Homo sapiens: one gene and its partner. The protein of the gene in region 1 purifies or fractionates together with the protein of each later gene. This does not show direct contact. Each region holds a gene or a part of one and is shown on either strand. Other genes may lie near its edges.

Region 1 (3,828 bases):
AGATAGTTATTGAATATATGTTTATCCCTTCTAGCTATATTGTATATTTCTCATTGTTTTTCTTTTAAAGTAACTTTTTATTGGTATAGATTAAATGAATTCACTGAGATGTAGGATGTTGCATGCCACCATTGAGTGGTAACTGTGTATTACTTTAGAAGGATAGTCTTTCAGAGAAACCAAAAATACCCCCTTTTTCTATTTTTATTATTAGATTGTATGTTTAGTGTAGAATATCAGTGTGTACTCATTTTTGGGAGGAGTGTGGAGCGAGAGAAAGACTCAACCCTATGAAGTAAGTCATATGGCTAAATAGCATTTCTAGATCACTAATCTACCTCATCTCCTAAACTAAAAATATTGAGTCATTTTCATCTGCCTTTTTTAGATTTTCAAAACCAGTTTTCTCCCCAGGACCCATCAATTTTACTTTCTAAATATCTACAGGATTGATCTTTTCTTCTCCATTCTTCCCTTAGTAATTCAAGGTGGCTGGTTTGGCATTTTATTGTCATTTCATTGATAACTTGAAAAATAAGCTGTAAGGTAGTTACTCCATATTCATTGAATGATAACTATCTTAATTAAAGGAAGCTTTAGCTTCAAATTTTTTTTTATGTTAAAAAAATAAAGTTAGGATTAAAGGCAAACATTTAATAAAAAAGAATTTATTATTTATTTTATTTTATTTTATTTTTTTGAGACAGTTTTGCTCTTGTTGTCCAAGCTGGAGTGCAATGGCGCAATCTTGGCTCACTGCAACCTCTACCCTCCAGGTTCAAGCGATTCTTCTGGCTCAGCCTCCCGAGTAGCTGGGATTACAGACATGTGCCACCACACCCGGCTAATTTTGTATTTTTAGTACATGTTGATCAGGCTGGTTTTGAACTCCTGACCTCAGGTGATCTGCCCGCCTTGGCCTCCCAAAGTCCTGGGATTACAGGCGTGAGCCACTGTGCCTGGCGGAATTTAATTTTTACAATTATTTCTGTCAGTTGTGGTGGTTAATAATTTATTAACCATTTCTTATGTCATTATATGGAAATGGCAGTTCTTCAAAGAATCCAATGCTCTTACTTGAAGTAACCCATGCATCATGGCATGGTATTCAAACATAGGATTTATTTTGAGATTACATTATATTCAACCATTCATTCATTAGCAAATAATTGTCAAAAACAATTTTGTGTCAGGTGCTGTATTTGAGACTAGGGATTCAGCAGTTTTGTATTTTTAGAACATGACCCTGTCTATAAAATTTATGTATTTTATGATACTGTATGAACTACTGAGTGAGTTATTTGAAACACAGTGCCAGTGAGGCCAAACCTCAAGTTAATATGTTGAGTTTTGTAGGGCAAATGTTCAGAGAATTTGAATGCAAAGATATTTTTGAAAGAAGTATTTTAGATACTAGAGGTAAGTTAATATTTATGGATATTAGACATTTTTATAGGAAATTTTAGCAAGTAAAGGTTTTATATTAAAGAAAATAATAAATTTAGCATTATTACTAATGGCTTTTGATATCATGTTGCTAGCTTCCTAAGCTGAAAGACCATAATGTATTCATTAGTAATGTAACCCTTAACAATTTTTAAATGTGAGCTAAAATGGTTGTTTTATATTTTATTTCAAATTAGTGAAGATGCAGAGTTACTGTGGCGTTTGGCACGGGCATCACGTGATGTAGCTCAGCTTAGCAGAACCTCAGAAGAGGAGAAAAAGCTATTGGTGTATGAAGCCCTAGAGTATGCAAAAAGAGCACTAGAAAAAAATGAATCAAGTTTTGCATCTCATAAGGTGAGTTGCTTAACTAAGCTATTAACCATGTACTGAGAGGTACATTTTCTATATTTTTCTATTATCTCTGATTTACATTGGAAGAACAATTTCTCTATTTTAAGTTTTTTTTTCTTTTTATTCAATCTTATATCTTAAGGATAATTTCTCTATTTTAAAGAAGTAGGGAAGATAGTTATTTTTATAAGTTTTTCAAAAAGAAGTCTTTGTTTTTGTAAACATTTGGTCTAACTTCATATGTATTTGATAAATTACTTTTGTGAATGCTTATTTTTAAACAGGAGTTTAGTAATTTCATGAATTACCTATATCTATATTCTTAGTAGTATAAGCACTTCACAGATGTTTTCTCATTTTCCTTACGTTATATTTCTGTTTTATTTAGAGGTAGGAATATAACAGCTAGACAACTGAGACCTAGAATGACTTTTCACATGTAACTTAGCTGCTTTCAGGATTTCTTGTTGGTTCACAACAACGTTTTTCAGTAAATCGTACGGGGAGACGAGGTGGTCATTAGCCTTCTGGATTGTTGGACTTCATAGAACCCAAAGGCAGGGTGAAGTTGGACCTTGGGAAACAATTGGCTTGATTGCTCCGAGGCTTCATTAATTGTTTCTCTACTCTGCTGTTACCTGAAAATCTTTTTCATTGCAGACATTTTTTTTCTCCTTATCCTAAGTCTTGTGACTTTCCACAGCACCTGGGTTTTTGAAGTGTGGCTATTTTAGATTCATTTCTTGGGAAAGAAACTCAGGTCATCTCAGTTTGGGTCTGCCGTCCAACTGTGGCTGTGGAGACAAGGTCACAGTTGACATTGTGGCTGTTCTTACTATAACAATGCAATGTGAGAGTAGATGGAACTCCAAGAAAAGAGAATGAGAAAATAAAACATTCAATTACATATTCTTCTAAATTGATACTCAGACCATAAACATGAACCATTATCTCATTGTGTTGGTAACTTTCTTGGAAAATTCACCACTTTCTACCTTGTATTATAGTTCTCTATAAACATGTCCTATCCCTGAGGTTTTTTTGTTTTGTTTTGTTTTGTTTTAGACATAGTCTCATTCTGTTGTCCAGGCTGGAGTACAGTGGTGTGATCTTGGCTCACTGCAACCTCCATCTCCCGGGTTCAAGTGATTCTTCTGCCTCAGCCTCCCAAGTAGCTGGGATTACAGGCACATGCTACCATGCCCAGCTAATTTTTGTATTTTTAGTAGAGATAAGGTTTCACCATGTTGGCCAGGGCCTCAAACTCCTGACCTCAGGTGATCCATCCACCTCGGCCTCCCAAAGTACTGTTACAGGCGTGAGCCACTGCGCCCAACCCTATTCCTGAGTTTCTAGAGGGCCATGTCCACTTCTCTTTATATATTCCATTACATTTAATACAGTTTTTATGCTCAGTAACTTTTTGTTGGATGAGAATGACTATTGAAGAATATTATACAGTTTTACCTTGTATTGAATGGAATATTAAGAATATTATTGTTCTTACACTTTTTTAAATTTTCAGTGGTATGCAATCTGCCTTAGTGATGTTGGAGATTATGAAGGCATCAAGGCTAAAATTGCAAATGCATATATCATCAAGGAGCATTTTGAGGTACTGATGAATTATTCAAATTCATGAATTTTAAAAGTCATATTTTTCTGAATAGATTTTTGTTTTCATTATCTATTGCTGTATATCAAACCACCTATGATAACAGTGGAGTAGAGCCATGACAGTTTGTTATTTCTTTTTTTTTTTTTTTTTGAGACGGAGTTTCGCTCTTGTCATCCGGGCTAGAGTGCAATGGTGCTATCTCAGCTCACTACAACCTCCGCCTCCCGGGTTCAAGCAATTTTCCTGCCTCAGCCTCCCGAGTAGCTGGGATTACAGGGGCACACCACCACATCTGGCTAATTTTTGTGTTTTTAGTAGAGGTGTGGTTTCACCATTTTGGCCAGGCTGGTCTCAAACTCCTGACATCAGGTGATCCACCTGCCTCGGCCTTTCAAAGTGCTGGGATTATA
Region 2 (3,828 bases), on another chromosome or scaffold:
TCATCATTTTACTTAGCAATCTTACTTGTGGGAATCTATCCTATAGATACAGTACGAAATGTACAATAGGCCTAGCGCAGTGGCTCAGGCATGTAATCCCAGTACTTTGGGAGGCCAAGGCGGTCGGATCATTTGAGGTCAGGAGCTCAAAACCAGCCTGGCCAATATGGTGAAATCCCTTCTCTACTAAAACTACAAAAATCAGCCGGGCGTGGTGATGGGCACCTGTAATCCCAGCTACTCGCCAGGGTGAGGCAGGAGAATCGCTTGAGCCCGGGAGGCGGAGGTTGCAGTAAGCAGAGATTGCGCCACTGCATTCCACTCTGGGAGACAGAGCAAGACTCCGTCTCAAAAACAAAACAAATAAAAAAAGAAATGTGCAATAAAAAATGACCAATATTCAAGGCTATCCCTTCCTGCATTATTTTTTCTGGCAAAAGGCTGGAAATAATCCAAATATCCAGAAACAGAACTAGTTTAATAAACCATGATATATTTACATAATGGAATACTATGTAGCTATTTAAAAAAAATAAGGAAAACCTCTATATACTGATATGGACAAATCTCAAAAATATATGTATAACTAAAAAACTAAGCTGCAGAAGTCTATACAATAACACTATTTATTTTGTAAAAAGGAGAAAATAAGATAATATATGCTCCTATTTGCATAAGAAAGCAATGGAAGAATAAACAACAAACGAATAAAATGGGGAAATAGAAGGAATGAGACAAAAAATGTTTGTTAGATCTATGATTCATATCCTTTTCTTTCCACTTTTTAAATAAAATATTTCAAACCCACACAAGATAATTTACCTATATCATTTTTTATTTTCAAAATTACAGTAGATAAGATTTCCAGGAGCTCAGGTTCCTCAGAATTACATATTTGATCTGATGATAACTAACAAACTCTTGAAATTTAATACAGGAATACTTAGCAAATGCTACACTCCCATTTAATTTCTCTCTATGGCTACTAATTTTTCTGTGGTGTGAATCTAATCAATCAGATAACAAATCAGCATAACCTCCACTGGAAGAGCTTCAATGAAAATTGTTGTCTATTTAACTCAAACAAAATCAAACACAGAGCCCATTGCTAGCTAACTGAACCAAATCAACATTGTCTTATTAGCCACAGATTCTTCATAATTTTTTCATTTTTCCAGTTTGCTTGATAACTCAATGAGGACATTTTTTAAAAACAAGTTTCTCTTTATCAAACCACAAAAAAATTTATTCTCCTATTCCATATTGTAATGAAACTTATTTAACATTATCCACCCCTTTTTACCCAAATGTACAATTTCAACTTTTTGCTAAATGTTAAGCTTTATTTATATAACATGCACTCAGATCATAATGCTTTCATCATTAGAGTTACTATTCTTAAACCTGCAAACTTTTGACAGCACTACAAAGAACACTGAGGAATGACAGGCTTTTTAAAAATTATTTTAGATTACACTTCTGACTGATGAAGAGAAAGAAGAACTATAAAGTTATATGTAGTTATAAAAAACATTTCTGATATGTAGAGGCTTTTGAAATTTTCATTAGTTTTATTTTCTCTCAAAAAGAAGTCATATTTTTAAGACAGTTAATCTGCAAATCAGTTAATTAATTCCCAGATAATTAACAGTTGGTGATACAATTTTTTAATTCTTCTATTCGTTCAACAAATATTTACTGAGCACCAACTATATGCCAGGCACCCTTTGGGTTCCCAGGATACAGCAGCAAACAAAAGAAACAAAATCCCTTCCCCCCTTGAACAGACATTCCAACAGGGTAGACAATCAAAAATAAAATGTCAGGCTGTAATAAGTTATTCAAAGAAAAGTAAAGTTCCTCCCTTTATTGTTCCCTATCCCAATAATTGGCATCACCATCATCTGATTGCTTAGGCCAAGAGCCTTGGAATCATCCTTGATCCTCTCTTTAATTCCCATAACTAATCCATCGTTTTGGCACTACCTTCAAAACATATTCTAAATCCAGCTACTTCTCATCACCTCCTCCCTATTACCATATTGCATGCCATAACCATCTCTTGCCTCTTATTACTGCAAACATCCCCTAACTGGTTTCCCTGTTTCCTCTCTTACTCTGTCTCCACACAGCAGCCAGAACATTCCTTGTTTGTTTGTTGTTGTTGTTGTCATTGTTTTTGAGACAGAGTCTCGCTCTGTCGCCCAGGCTGGAGTTCAGTGGTGCGATCTCCACTCACTGCAACCTCTACCTCCTGGGTTCAAGTGATTCTCCTGCCTTAGCCTCCTGAGTAGCTGGGATTACAGGTGCCCACCACCACGCCAGGCTAATTTTTGTTTTGTTTTCTTTTCTTTTGAGACGAGTCTCGCACTGTCTCCCAGGCTCGAGGGCAGTAGCGCGATCTCGGCTCACTGCAAGCTCCGCCTCCCAGGTTCACGCCATTCTCCTGCCTCAGCCTCCCAAGTAGCTGGGACTACAGGTGCCTGCCACCAGGCCCAGCTAATTTTTTTTTTTTTTTTTTTTTTTGTATTTTTAGTAGAAACGGGGTTTCACCATGTTAGCCAGGATGGTCTCGATCTCCTGACCTCGTGATCCGCCCGCCTCGGCCTCCCAAAGTTCTGGAATTACAGGCGTGAGCCACCGTGCCAGGCCATTTTTGTATTTTTAGTAGAGACACGGTTTCACCATGTTGGCCAGGCTGGTCTTGAACTCCTGGCCTCAAGTGATCTGCCCTCCTTGGCCTCCCAAAGTGCAGAGATTGCAAGCATGAGCCACTGTACCTGGCCACATTCCTTGTTTAATCTAAGTGACCACATGTCACTTTCCTGCTCAAAACTCTCCTGTACTTTCCCATAATGCTCAGAATAAAAACTCTCCTGTACCTTTCCATAACATTTAGAATAAAATCAAAGTCTCTTTCTTAGTCTACATGATCTGGACCCTGACTACTTTCTTACCACCACTTCCCACCGTTATCCTTTTCCTGAGGGCCTTGGCACTTACTGTCCCCTTTGTATGGAAGGTATTTCCCTCACAGAGAGCCATATGGCTTGTTGCTTCACTCTATTCAAACCTTTGCCAAAGCTACCTTTCCTAATCCCCTAATTGAAAGCAATAACCCAGTCATTATGTAACATTAATCGCTAAATAGCACTACATTATATATTTATTCATTTATTCTGTAAGTGCCCACTCCGGACTCTATAAGCTCAATAAGGATAGGGACTTGTCTATATTGCTGCCTGCTGTACCCCAGAGCCTGGAAGAGTATCTGGCACATAGACATTGCTCAATATTGAATGAATATATGAATGAATCAATTCATTAATAAAGCCACTAAAGTGACATCATTATAATGTATAAACCTGTATATAACATGTTAACTGAAAAAGCAAGACACATAATAATCATCTAATATTTAATATAATAACATGCATATAAAAAAGTTAAGAGGAAATATAAAAATATAAAAGTGGTGGAAAGGTAATAGAATTAAGTTATTTGTTGTTGTTTCTTCTTAAGTCATTCTATTACATTTATAATTAAAATATAAAAATGTCATTTTTAAAAGGGCACTACTATTAAAAAATAAGCATGAGCAATGGGAATGTTCTTCCCCTCAGTGATTGTCAAGGACGGAGTATATCACAATCACCTGAAGGGCTTTTATATATTTATTTCCTATCTCCTCCTCCTTTCTCTGCTCCACCCCAAAATAACCCCTCCCAGGATTGATTATTGATAAGTATTATATCCCTTAGATATGTGGGACCAGGAAAAGGAAACAAAAAAAATAGGCTAACCACTAAACTAACAAAACTCAAAAAA

Evidence for each region.
Region 2: the proteins of RMDN1 (region 1) and EXOC6B fractionate together in Homo sapiens (co-fractionation; one large-scale study listed by BioGRID). This does not show direct contact.

What each region holds. Positions count from the first base shown.
Region 1 is NC_000008.11:86,484,459-86,488,286, reverse strand, and holds part of RMDN1 (regulator of microtubule dynamics protein 1), read left to right. Parts: intron 1-1,643; coding exon 1,644-1,803; intron 1,804-3,325; coding exon 3,326-3,415; intron 3,416-3,828.
Region 2 is NC_000002.12:72,815,809-72,819,636, forward strand, and holds part of EXOC6B (exocyst complex component 6B), read right to left. Parts: intron 1-3,828. UniProt on the Homo sapiens protein: Component of the exocyst complex involved in the docking of exocytic vesicles with fusion sites on the plasma membrane.